Homo sapiens: one gene and its partner. The protein of the gene in region 1 interacts with the protein of each later gene in a pairwise test. Each region holds a gene or a part of one and is shown in the gene's direction. Other genes may lie near its edges.

The links. The genes of interacting proteins can lie anywhere in the genome.
Region 2: the proteins of HERPUD2 (region 1) and ALG10 interact in binary tests that used the Homo sapiens proteins (3 or more experiments, as listed by UniProt).

Annotation. Positions count from the first base shown.
Region 1 is NC_000007.14:35,663,424-35,672,451, reverse strand, and holds part of HERPUD2 (homocysteine-responsive endoplasmic reticulum-resident ubiquitin-like domain member 2 protein), read left to right. Parts: intron 1-2,123; coding exon 2,124-2,237; intron 2,238-4,863; coding exon 4,864-5,018; intron 5,019-9,028. UniProt on the Homo sapiens protein: Could be involved in the unfolded protein response (UPR) pathway.
Region 2 is NC_000012.12:34,024,792-34,030,126, forward strand, and holds the end of ALG10 (dol-P-Glc:Glc(2)Man(9)GlcNAc(2)-PP-Dol alpha-1,2-glucosyltransferase), read left to right. Parts: intron 1-1,071; coding exon 1,072-2,124; 3' UTR 2,125-3,511; downstream 3,512-5,335. UniProt on the Homo sapiens protein: Dol-P-Glc:Glc(2)Man(9)GlcNAc(2)-PP-Dol alpha-1,2-glucosyltransferase that operates in the biosynthetic pathway of dolichol-linked oligosaccharides, the glycan precursors employed in protein asparagine (N)-glycosylation.

The DNA of each region.
Region 1 (9,028 bases):
AAAAAATATATTAGTATATTCCTTCTGCTTAGACAGTTGACATTTTAGCTTTGCCAATGTGACTTCTTGCTGTTATTGGCAATATGTAGTTTCAAATTGCTAACATGGTGTAATACCCACTCCCTCAAAAATAGTGGAATTTGCAGCAGGTTTTTTTTTCTTTCTTTCCTCTTTTTTTTTTTTAAACAATTTTTTAGAGCTGTTTTAGGTTTATAGCAAAATTGAACAGAAAGTACAGCAATTTCTCTTACATTCTCTGACCCCACATAGGCACAGCCTGCCCCACTATCAGCATCCCACACCAAAGTAGTACATTTGTTACAATCAGTGAGCTTACATTGACATACATTATCACCCAAAGTCAGTAGTTTATGTTAGGGTTCACTCTTGGTGTTGCACTTTCTATGAGTTTTGGCAAATATATAATGACATGTCTCCACCAGTATAGTATCACTTAGAATAGCCCTAAAAACCTCTGTATTCTGGCTGTTCTTTTTTTTTCTCTTGTTTTTATGCTGGTGCTCAGAAATAAAATATATTTCGGTATAGTCCTTTCTGCCATCTGCTCTTTGAAATATAGATATATTAATTATTTTATGCCAAGGATAGCTTAAATCTACACATGAAGACTTTTAAAAAGATTTTTGCTGCCAGGAATGGTTTCAGGCCAAACAACTTAAAATAAAAACTGCTTCAGTCAAAGAACTCTTGTGCCCCTATATAAAACATTTTGAGTAATACATTTATGTTTTGAATAGTTCTTTCAACTGTTTTTATTAAAGTCAATGTACCCCTTTACTTTTTTCAGTTAAATACTGCCATTAGCTTTACCTATTTAGTCACAAAATGTTTTATAGAAACATTCCCAAGATAAATAAATTCTGTGAATTAATTGTGATTAATAATGACCTTTTGGAACTAGGTTTCTAAGGATCAACATCTTATACTTGTATGCTTGTTAATATTCTGTATTAAGAAGCTAAGGGAGACGTTGAAAATTAGGAGTGTCTTCAACCTCCTTTGCCAGGCGTACCTTCTGTCATGCTGTCTCTGAAGCCTTTCTTTAGCATTCTAACCCTTAGTAACTCCTTCCTCCAAACTCCTAAAGCAATTAAGGTTGGGCTTCTCAGTTTCATGAAAAAAAGACTGTTCTCTGTGTTTCTCTAATTGTGCTGTAGTGCACTAGTCTACCCTCTTAACAATATCATGAGCCTCTTTAAGGAAGGGCCTGTTGTACCCTTTCTTGGATTTGTCTCCAAATTAAGCACAATTATAGGTTCATGGTAGGCAAGTGATACATTCATAGTTTCTAGTAGCTTTGTTTCCCTTTCTCCCCATTTGGTTATCTTTCTTTCTGCTCCTTTTTCTTTGTCATTCTGTTCTTTTCTTTTTAAAAAACTAGCTGACTCATCCTTCATTGTTCTCTGTCCTCCTTTATTCCTTCTTTCCTTTCCCCATCTTATTTGCTGGCTTTATGTCTAAGTATAAATAAATATGCTTATGATCTCACTAAGCTAAAATGCCAACCCTAATCGTTATTTGGAATATTTTTCTTCAGTCATATTTCTAGGTTTATGGAAAAACATGGGATATTTACAGAATATAGTTTAAATGTATGCTTTATATCTGCGTATAGGTGTTATAGATAAAAATAGTTTTTGACTGAAAAAAAGAGTAAAAAAAATCACCTTGCTAAAATTAAGGCAAATGTGATTATGATGAAGTTATTTGAGTTTATTTTATAGTTGCTAAGCCTCAAGTGATGGAAATATGTAAACTGTAAAAAGTTTAAGGTGCTAGATGTTTTCATGCTGAAATTATAGATTGTGCTGTTACAACTTTCACAACATTGTTTGCTTTAAGACTGCTTCGTATGCAAAATAATTTTTTAACCCAGCAATTGCAGAGTATTTAGATCATTTTCCAAGTATGGAGAAAATATTGAATTCAAAAGGATCACAAATAAAATGACAAATTTACCTTCAAATGATAACAATTTATCAGTAATTAAATGGCTAGGCTCGAAAGGGACCTAAGTTTTAGGTATTTCAGTTTAGCTACTGACTTTTTGAACTGTACATTTTGTAGTACTACCCTTTAAATGTAATCTTCTTTAATTTTAGCAAGATGAGTATCATATGGTTCATCTAGTATGTACTTCTCGGACTCCTCCCAGTTCTCCAAAATCCAGCACCAATAGAGAAAGTCATGAAGCATTGGCATCCAGCAGCAATTCTGTGAGTTGTTTTGGGAGGAGTAAACATTGAACTTTTCTTTTTTTTTCGTCGTCGTCTTATTTTTTGCCTCTAAAAACTAAATGAAAAACAGAACAATTGGAGCTTGTGAATTTTGAGATTGTGTTTTGAACTAAAGTTAGGCATTTTGTAAAGTTTACCATTTTGAAAGATCTAATACGCAGTGTTATCCCTTGAAGTCTATTCACCTTGAGTTATAATTTGCTGTATGGCAGGTCAGTAATAGATTTAATCTTCAAAGGTTTAATTACTGGAATACTCAGAAAACGGAATTATGTTACGGTTATATAATATAAACTCTTAGGCCAATGACGTTTCAGAAATATGCCAGGTATTTAAAATAGTATATTTTATTCAAGGTGGATTAAATTGTTTAAAATTTAAGTACCCTAAATCTTCTTGAAGTAGATGACTTGGTCAAGGATTTTGTTTTTTAAAAATGACTGGATTTGGGTGTACATTCCACCTGCTTGGGGAGGAAATACTTAATGTATTAATCTCTTTCAGACTTGGGTATTCATTCCTCCATCCTTATTTTTCCATCTGCCTAAAATTGTTTTGGAAATGTTTTGTAATAGTTGACCTTCTCAATTTAGACATTTTCTACAAATTTCAAAAACATTGTCCCCAATCCTTTTATGTTATTTTTGATTTCCCATAAAAGCTTTCTATGACACCTTTGCAGGTGAGAGGATTGGATGAGTGGAAGCTTGCTTTCAACTTCTTGAGCAGTCAGGGAACTTTTCTACTGCTAAGTATGCTTTCCTTGTCAAGACTCCAGCCAAAGCTTGAAAGAGAGCACAAGTGACAGGGGTGGGAGCTAGTTGAAAACTCTCTCAATAGATACTAGTTAACTGCTTCTTTAAGAAACTAGCTTCTCCAGTTGCTGTATTTAATTTGTATTCTCTTAATGGTAACTATTTCCTAGTACCAGCCATGGGAATTTAGCTTACATTAAACTAAATAAAATATGCCTTGTCAAAACACCCAAGGGTCTTTGTATGTTTCCTGCCTTGGCATGGAAAGGCACAGACATTGGCATTGGCACAGAGTTTTTTTTTGTAGTCGTCGGACACAGTTGCATTGCTTCAATTTTTGTTGGGAAAGAACCCTCTGACTTTGACTTGTCCAGTGGGTTGCTCAGCCATGATTTTGTGTCATTAGTGTGTATATTTGTTTTTTTCAGTGTTATGAAAGCCTGAAAAGTATCAAAGGAATGTTAAGTTGAATTCACCTTAATTTTTCATGGTTCAGAAATTTCAAGGGACTTGAAAATATTTTAAAGATCTAATCATAAAATAATTACCTAATAAGGTCAGAAATCATTAGTTCTAGAGAAATTAGGTTGTGCTGCCAAATGACTAGGCTTTTCTTCTAATAATTGTATTAATGAACACCGTATTATGATGGCCCATTTAATGAGAAATCTTGCTGAAAAAGAAACCTTTCCCAGTTTATGTTCCTAAGAATCCGGACTCCTTAGTAAGATATTTGATATCTATTGTGTGTGAAGTAACATTTTAAAAGTTTTTGTTAGTCTTGCAAAAGACTGGTGTGGACTGTTTTGCAAAAGACAGTTTTGGACCTTTCACATTGCAGGACTTAGCATGGGAGTCATGCAAAAAGACATCCTGTCAATAGGAAGGCAGTACGGGTAAAATACAATTTAACAAAATTGTTAAAGGAAGGATGTTAAAATAATACTGTACCTAGCTTTTTAAAGTGGAAGAACTATAATTTATGTAAAATGTAATTGTGTTTTAAATGTACATGAAACACTTGACAAACTATTTTCAAACAAATTGGGATGGTCTTCAGGGAGTTATATTGTTTATGGTTACTGAATCCATGAGCACGAGAATAAAAAGATTTGAGCATGAGAATAAAAAAATACTGATTAACATCTTGATTCTCGTAGTTCATTTTGTAAAAAAGCAATATTTGTTGGTGATTTCTATAAACTAATAGAATTCTAGAACTGAAAGGAATCTTGAAAATTTAGTCCAATCTCATTTTCTGTAGGAAAGTGGAAACTCTGAGAGGTTAAGTGAACCTTTAAGGTTATAACTCTTGTTAATGTCAGAGATAACACTAGATTTTAGATCTTTTGATTTCTAGGATTTCTAGCCTGTTTCTCATTACTTTAAATCAATATGTTAACAATAGCATGTTGTACAGTACTTGGCACATAGTAACTGTTTAAATGACTCAGTAATTAGTACCATTTATTGAACACTTTCAATAAATGTATGTGTTAGGCATCATGAAAGGAGCTTTGCATGCATTAATTTAATCATGTGAAAAGAGCTTTTTATGCATTAACTTAATCCTCAGAATTTAATATGCTGTTTTTGTATATTATTATTCTGCTCCTCGGCCATTTCTAGTTGAAAAAATGGAATATTTTAGTTTAATTAAGCAGTTTTGATAAGTTTTGACGTACTAAAATTAAAATATCTACTTATACTGGACACACGATGTAAAACAGTAAATTTCTGAAATGTTATTTTGCAGAGGGATTTCATGAATACGTTTTTAGTAATGTGCCTGTAATTTTATGATTGTAAAGAACTAAATCTCCTTTTAAAAATTACATTTTTATTTGTAGAGTTCAGATCATTCAGGATCAACAACTCCATCATCTGGTCAAGAAACCTTGTCTTTAGCTGTGGGTTCTTCCTCAGAAGGATTGAGGCAGCGTACCCTTCCACAAGCACAAACTGACCAAGCACAGAGTCACCAGTTTCCATATGTAATGCAAGGGTAAGTGAAATTGTGGTAGCTATGGAATGTGATTGGGGCCCCCTAAAAATGAATTGCTTTTGAGTTTCACTATAGCCTCTTTGCAGTAATTAAAGTACATTTTAAATTTATTCATATATTTGATTTTGTATTTTGAGAACTAGAGGGTTAAGAAGAGCACTGCTTTTCAAACCTGGCTGCACATGAGAATCATGTAGGGCAGTGCTTTCAATCTTGAATGTTTGTCCTAATCACCGGGAGACCTTGTTGAGCTGCAGGTTTGTATTCAATAGGTATGATGGGGCCTGAGAATCTGCATTTCTGACAAGCTCCCAGATGATGCTAATGCTTCTGATGTTTGGACTACACTTTGAATAGCAAGGATCTACGTAACTAATTTTTTTTTACTCAGTCTCACTATAGATCTACTCAATTTAGTGTTTAGGGGAATGTGGTTGAGTGAAGGTATACTTGAAAGAGTACAGAGCCCAGCAATCTGTTTTTAAAAGTTTTTAAACGTTCCACAAGTGTTTCTAATCAACTTGGTAACAACTGTGCTAGAGTAAAACCATGATGTATTACAGGGATATGCTAATCTTGCTGCATGTTGTCCAGAATCTTTGTTGTATTGAGAGTTTTATAAAGCAGTTTTCTTAAGAAGCTTGCCATAGTCACCCTATATTTAGCAATTACAGCAGGCCCCTTGGGTTAGGCACTTCCAGAGGAAATGCAGCCACAGGTAAAGCAGCTTAGAGAGTAGGATCTTGGAGAACATGGTTTGGACCAGGGTTGTGTGTGAAAGCAGACTGTTTTACTGGGGTATTATTGTTTGTTATTTTTGAGGTAAAGGAAGCTTGAGTAACAGATAGTGATAATTTCTGTGTTGCGTATCAAGCCATGGGGCTGCAGTGTGTGGCACTGGTCTGGATCCATGATGATGGAGCTAGAAATGAGAATATGGCTAGGACCTCAGAATTGTAATGTAGGTGGTGTAACCAAGGAGTAGCTATTGACTGCTGTGCTCAACAGGACGGCATAAACACTCAGGTACTTTTTACTTAGAACTTTAAACTTAATTCAGTTATTAATACAGAAAAACAAAGCTGAATATATAGCAAATAGAAGAGAACTAATTTGTCTCAGATTTCTTAAATGTGAAGCCTTTTCTTTCAAAATAAATGTTTAGATGAGGCTGGTTGTAGACTTTCATAAAGTACCTGTGAAACTATTTTTGTTTTCAGAAAGTGATTACTATTAATATAAACCAAGATTTACTTGTAAAAAGCAGTGTTCTCAGGGTTTATATTATGGAACAGTAGCTTCAAATACTTTGTCTTATGACAGTAATTCACTTCCTTTCTTTTTCACAGAGTAAGTTCCTCTCAGTTTATACAGAGTGATTTTACTTATTTTATTTGGTGGTAGTGGTGGAAGGTGGGAGTATTATAAATAAGCCTGGAAAAATATATAGTGCCACATTAATAGTGGTTATCTCTGGATAAAATTTATAACTCTTTCTCTTACTTACAGTGAATATATTTTGTAATAAACAAATCAAGCTTATAAGATTACAGGTCTTCAGAATAAGACCATAGATACATTGGTAAAAGATTAATAATTTCTCTAAACTAGGCTATTGAGAAAATTAATAAACATAAAAGACAAAAGCATTCAGCTCTTCGAAGTATATTAAGCTGATTAGAAAAATCTGAAATAGGTGGCGCCAAGATGGCCGAATAGGAACAGCTCCAGTCTGCAGCTCCCAGCATGAACGATGCAGAAGATGGGCGATTTCTGCATTTCCAACTGAGGTACCAGGTTCATCTCACTGGGGCTTGCCAGACAAATAGGTGCAGCCCATGGAGCAGGGCGGGGCATCGCCTCACCTGGGAAGCGCAAGGGGTCGGGGAATTCCCTTTACTACAAAAGGGAAGCCGTGAGAGACTGCACCTGGAAAATCGGGATACTCCCACCCTAATACTGCACTTTTCCAATGGCCTTAGCAAACGGCTCACCAGGAGATTATATCCCGCGCCTGGCTCAGAGGGTCCCATGCCCAAGGAGCCCTGCTCATTGCTAGCACAGCAGTCTGAGATCAAACTGCAAGGCGACAGCAAGGCTGAGGGAGGGGCATCTGCCATTGCCGAGGCTCGAGTACATAAACAAAGTGGCCAGGAAGCTCGAACTGGGTGGAGCCCACCTCAGCTCAAGGAGGCCTCCCTGCCTCTGTAGACTCCACCTCTAGGGGCAGGGCATAGCTGAACAGAAGGCAGCAGAAACTTCTGCAGACTTAAATGTCCCTGTGTGACAGCTTTGAAGAGAGTAGTGGTTCTCCCAGCACTGAGTTTGAGATCTGAGAACAGACAGACTGCCTCCTCAAGTGGGTCCCTGACCCCCGAGTAGCCTAACTGGGAGGCATCTCCCAGTAGGGGGGCGACTGGCACTTCATAAGGCTGGGTGCCCCTCTGAGATGAAGCTTCCAGAGGAAGGATTAGGCAGCAACATGAGCTCCTTGCCAGCAGCGGAACAAAGCTGTATGGAGAATGACTTTGACGAGTCGAGAGAAGGCGGCTTCAGACAATCGGTAATAACAAACTTCTCCCAGCTAAAGGAGGATGTTTGAACCCATCACAAAGAAGCTTAAAAACCTTGAAAAAAGAGTAGACAAATGGCTAACGAGAATAAACAGCATAGATAAGTCCATAAATGACCTGATGGAGCTGAAAACCATGGCACAAGAACTACGTGATGCATGCACAAGCTTCAGTAGCTGATTTGATTAAATGGAAGAAAGGGTATCAGTGATTGAAGATCAAATGAATGAAATGAAGTGAGAAGAGAAGTTTAGAGAAAAAAGAGTAAAAAGAAATGAACAAAGCCTCCAAGAAATATGGGACTATGTGAGAAGACCAAATCTACATCTGATTGGTGTACCTGAAAGTGATGGGGAGAATGCAACCAAGTTGGAAAGCACTCTTCAGGATATCATCCAGGAGAACTTCCCCAACCTAGTGAGGCAGGCCAACATTCAAATTCAGGAAATACAGAGAACACCACAAAGATACTCCTCGAGAATAGCAATTCCAAGACACATAATTGTCAGATTCACCAAAGTTGAAATGAAGAAAAAAATGTTAAGGGCAGCCAGAGAGAAAGGTCTCATTACCCACAAAGGGAAACCCATCAGACTAATAGCTGATCTCTCGGCAGAAACTCTACAAGCCAGAAGAGAGTGGGGGCCAATATTCAATATTCTTAAAAGAATTTTCAACCCAGAATTTCATATTCAGCCAAACTCAGCTTCATAAGTGACGGAGAAATAAAATCCTTTACAGACAAACAAATGCTGAGAGATTTTGTCACAACCAGGCCTGCCTTACAAGAGCTCCTGAAGGAAGCACTAAAACACGGAAAGGAACAACCGGTACCAGCCCTGCAAAAACATGCCAAATTGTAAAGACCATCTATACTAGGGAGAAACTGCATCAACTAATGAGCAAAATAACCAGCTAACATCATAATGACAGGCTCAAATTCACACATAATAATATTAACCTTAAATGTAAATGGGCTAAATGCTCCAATTAAAAGACACAGACTGGCAAATTGGATAGAGTCAAGACCCATCTGCTGTATTCAGGAAACCCATCTCACGTGCAGAGACACACATAGGCTCAAAATAAAGGGATGGAGGAAGATCTACCAAGCAAATGGAAAACAAAAAAAAGGCAGGGATTGCAGTCCTAGTCTCTGATAAAACAGACTTTAAACCAACAGATCAAAAGAGACAAAAGGCCATTACATAATGGTAAAGGGATCAATTCAACAAGAGGAGCTAACTATCTTAAATATATATGCACCCAATACAGGAGGACCCAGATTCATAAAGCAAGTCCTTAAAGACCTACAAAGAGACTTAGACTCCCACGCAATAATAATGGGAGACTTTAACACCCCACTGTCAACATTAGACAGATCAACGAGACAGAAAGTTAATAAGGATATCCAGGAATTGAACTCAGCTCTGCACC
Region 2 (5,335 bases), on another chromosome or scaffold:
GAGATGATTTCAGTAGTGTCAGTTATGATAGAGTGGTAAACATAAGATGCTATGAGGATACAGAGAAGGAGCAGGGGAACACTTACTGCTTTTCTGGGAGGGAGGGGAGTATGTGGCATTTGGTAAGTCCTCACAGAGAAGATGGTACCAGAGCTGAGTCTTGATGAACGGATAGGGCTGTGTAGGGTGGGGAATTAATCCTGGGGAGACAAACAACATAAGAAAAGGAAGAAAGGCATTGAACAACGAGTTGCAGGGAATTGGTCTTGGAATTACAGGATTAAAAAGTAGAGGGATGTAAGGCTAGAGAAGTAGGTCATGAATGCCCTTATGTGTCACAGAGAGGACTTTGAACTTTAGCATGTAATGTAAAGACCTTAATTTTAATCAAGGAAATGGCATGGTCTGATTTGGTGATTTAGATTAAGTGGAGTATACAATTCAAGAACATAAGAACACTTTCAAATTCTGAAACAGCATGTCAGAAAGGCCAAAAGAAGATATATAACTTTAGACAGGCTCACTTTTCAGAAAAATACCTGTTATTTCATCATGAAAATTTCATCTTGAAAAAGTAAGTCTGGGTATGGTAGTATACCATATGCATGTTTATATTCTCCCTTGTGTAGAGTTATGAAGGATTTCCTTAAAGGAAAGTGGTTCATTATGGCTAAGTGAATCCTTACTGAAGGCACTAAAACATAAGCTCAGGGAAATGGAGCCAGCACCGTGTCCTATTTATCTCCATAGTCCACATAGAACTTAGTTAGTATCTTGCACTCAATAACTCCTTAACTAATCATTGCCTGATTCCAATTGTGTTAAGCTATAGAAGATTTGGCATACACATGGTCTCCAAACTGATAGGTATACATAAAAAGTACCAGGAAGTGTTCTTATAAATGTATATTGTGTTTTTGCAAAGCCAGAGATAAGATTAATATTGATTAATTTTATTTAAAGAAGGTTTGAGTAGTTGAGTAGTTTTTAAATAAATTTCTTCATTAGGTAAGCAGAAATAGCATTTTTTGTCATGAAAATAATTTTATCTGTGTTTCTTCTTCCTCCAAGGCTGCCTCAAGTATCCAGAGAGTCTTGTCAACATTAACACTAGCAGTATTTCCAACACTTTATTTTTTTAACTTCCTTTATTATACAGAAGCAGGATCTATGTTTTTTACTCTTTTTGCGTATTTGATGTGTCTTTATGGAAATCATAAAACTTCAGCCTTCCTTGGATTTTGTGGCTTCATGTTTCGGCAAACAAATATCATCTGGGCTGTCTTCTGTGCAGGAAATGTCATTGCACAAAAGTTAACGGAGGCTTGGAAAACTGAGCTACAAAAGAAGGAAGACAGACTTCCACCTATTAAAGGACCATTTGCAGAATTCAGAAAAATTCTTCAGTTTCTTTTGGCTTATTCCATGTCCTTTAAAAACTTGAGTATGCTTTTGCTTCTGACTTGGCCCTACATCCTTCTGGGATTTCTGTTTTGTGCTTTTGTAGTAGTTAATGGTGGAATTGTTATTGGCGATCGGAGTAGTCATGAAGCCTGTCTTCATTTTCCTCAACTATTCTACTTTTTTTCATTTACTCTCTTTTTTTCCTTTCCTCATCTCCTGTCTCCTAGCAAAATTAAGACTTTTCTTTCCTTAGTTTGGAAACGTAGAATTCTGTTTTTTGTGGTTACCTTAGTCTCTGTGTTTTTAGTTTGGAAATTCACTTATGCTCATAAATACTTGCTAGCAGACAATAGACATTATACTTTCTATGTGTGGAAAAGAGTTTTTCAAAGATATGAAACTGTAAAATATTTGTTAGTTCCAGCCTATATATTTGCTGGTTGGAGTATAGCTGACTCATTGAAATCAAAGTCAATTTTTTGGAATTTAATGTTTTTCATATGCTTGTTCACTGTTATAGTTCCTCAGAAACTGCTGGAATTTCGTTACTTCATTTTACCTTATGTCATTTATAGGCTTAACATACCTCTGCCTCCCACATCCAGACTCATTTGTGAACTGAGCTGCTATGCAGTTGTTAATTTCATAACTTTTTTCATCTTTCTGAACAAGACTTTTCAGTGGCCAAATAGTCAGGACATTCAAAGGTTTATGTGGTAATATCAGTGATATTTCGAACTGTGAAAATGGACTTAATAATTAGACCATTTCTACAAAGAACAACTGAATAGGTGGAAAACATGGAATTTCTTTTAGGTGCAGTGGTGGTCTTCAAATTACATTAGTTTTTTTTATATATATTTTAAACATATGTAAGAAATTAAGTGGCAAAGAACTGAGAAAGCTTAAGACCTGCTTCAAAAGCCTGAAAAATGGAAAAATAAAATTGTTTTCAGATATCTCATATCACTCTCATAATGTTGGCCCCTTAAAAAGCTTGGGAATGTTTTGTATGTACAAGTTTATTAAAACTGGGTATGCTTCATATTACTGGAATGAATTTATTCTCTTCAGAGAGAAATATTAGGTTAGTGCAAAAGTAATTGTGGTTTTTGCCATTGAAAGTAATGGCAAAACCACAATTACTTTTTTACCAACCTAATAACAATGTATTAGCAAATATTTACAAATGGTCAGGTGATATTCTTGATTGAAAAGTTGCTTAACATTTCAGTAATATAATTTTAATTCTAAGTCAAAATACAAATGCATAGATAGTAAATGATAAAGTAGAGACTCATATATGCCTGTCTAGACATCAAATTGTTGGTTATTGTTTACAATCTAGAAATGATGAAGCTCTTTCACTAATTCCTAATATGAAATGTATGATGGCCAAAGACAAATTGTATTGATTATAATCCTTTAAAAGGGGGATTTCCTTTCTGAAATACATATTGTATTAGCTTCCCAGGGCTTCCATAACAAATGACGACAAACTTGGGTGCTTACAACAATTTTCCTCACAGTCTGGAGGCCAGAAGTCTAAAATCAAAGTGTCAGCAGAGTTGGTTCCTTCTGGAGGCTCTAAGGAAGAATCCATAAACAGACATTCTATGTCTGTTTCCTAATATCTTGTGGCTGTGTGCAATTCTTGGAGTTCTTTGGCTTCTGGACAAATCTTGTCCAAGTATTGCAGACAGCAATCTTCACTCCAGTCTCTGCCTCTGTGTTCACACGGCCTTTCCCTCTGTCTTCTCTTCATTACCTTTTAAGGACAGTGTCTTTGAATGTAGGGCCCACCCTGATCTAGGGTGATTGTGTCTGGAGACCCTTAATTATGTTTACAAAGACCCATGTTCCAAGTAAGTTTGTATTCACATGATCTGAGTAGACATTGTCTCTTCGTGGGATACTTTTCAGTCCATGACAGTTACTAAAGGACATTTTAGGATAGTCTTCATATGATTGTTAGGAGACTACCTTTTTAGATTTTTTTTATTATATATCAAATTATAGTTGTATATACTTATGAGAAACAAAGTGGCATTATGATTTTTGAATATAATGTGGGATTAAATAAAGCTAATCTATCCATCACCTCAAATATTTGACATATTTTGTGATGAAAACATTTGAAATTTACTCTCAGCAGTATTGAAATGTACAGTGCTTAATTATTAGCTGTATTCACCATGTTGTGTAATAGATCTAAAAAAAGTCAAACATGCTCCTTCTATCTAATTGAGGCTTTGTATCTTTTGATTATCATCTCCCCATTCCCACATCCCCGGCCTCTAGCAACCATCATTCTTCTCTCTACTTCTGTGAGTTTAATTGTTTTAGATTACACAAATAAGTGAGATCATGTGGTATTTGTCTTTCTGTGCTTGGCTTATTTCACTTACCATAATGTCCTCCAGGTTCATCCATATTGTTGCAAATGACACAATTTCTACCTTTTTAAAGGCCAAATAGTATTTTATTGTGTATATATGCCACATTTTCTTTATCCATGCATCCATTGATGGACATTTAGGTTGATTGAATAACTTGATAATTGTGACTTGTCTGCAGTGAACGTGGAGTGCAGACTTCTCTTTGACATACGGATTTCAAGTCTTCTGGATAAATGCCCAGAAGTGGGATTGTTGGATCAGGAGATAATATCTTAGCCGATACCTTTTAAATAACTCTCAGTATCTTTACTGAGAGGTTAAAAAGTAAGTGACTTCTGAGGTAATATAAAGCTAAAGGTGACTAGTGTTTGATTCCATTATCTATTTAAAAAAATGTCAGAATTGAAAGTTAAGAAATCATTTGGTCTGACCTTATTTTGTAGATTAGGGAACAACTGCTGGGGTAGGATTATTTTGTGTTACTTTTTGAATTTTGTGTTTATTATTTTGAGTGTATTTTTTGGGTTGTCATTCCATTATAGGAAAGTATTATTTGGGCATGTTAAATTTGACATGTAAACTTAGAATTATGAATAGAACACTTCTTTTAACATAATTTTATGTTTCCAAACTTTAAAAGTAGCTATAAGTGAACAAATTACTTTCCCCTCAATGTCAAATTTTGTTTCTCTGAGTTTTAAGTAATGATTCTACATTTACAAATATAAAATTGTGTGTAGGTGAAAATCACAAGTATAATTTGAATGATAAATACAGACCGTTTTTTGGTTGTACTCTAGTACTCAGAAAATAGAGTTGCATTAGTTATAACAGTGATTGTAGAAAAACGTGTTTTACCCAGACTTTTTAAAAATTAGACGAGAGAGGACACTCAGAGAAATTATACTTTTGTCATTAATTTACTATAATAGAGAACTAAATCCGAGAAGTCAAAATTGAAAAAAGAATGTATAATTTAGGGAAAATAACTTTTTGTCTGATAATATTAATGCAAGGATTTTGTATTTAGGAATACTTCTGAGAGGAGAAGCTTCCACTCTGATCTAGTCTGGCAAAATTGAGGAAAATATTCTACCCTGTAATTAAAGAAGACTGCTCTTTGGAGGGATCACTGTTCTAGATTTTTTTTTTTTTTTTTTTTTTTTTTTTTGAGGAGAAGTCTCACTCTTGTCCCCCAGGCTGGAGTGCAATGGCTTGATCTCGGCTCACTGAAACCTCCACCTCCCGGGTTCAAGCAATTCTCCTGCCTCAGCCTCCCGAGTAGCTGGGATTATAGGCACCTGCCACCACGCCCGGCTAATTTTTCCTATTTTTAGTAGAGACGGGATTTCACCATGTTGGCTAGGCTGGTCTCGAACTCCTGACCTCAGGTAGTACACCCGTCTCGGCCTCCCAAAGTGCTGGGATTACAGGCGTGAGCCACTGTGCCCAGCTCTTCTAGTTCATTTTTAAGTGTTGAGTCCCTGCTGTTTTAAGAGATGTTTTGGTGAAAATCTACATTCAGAGAGAAA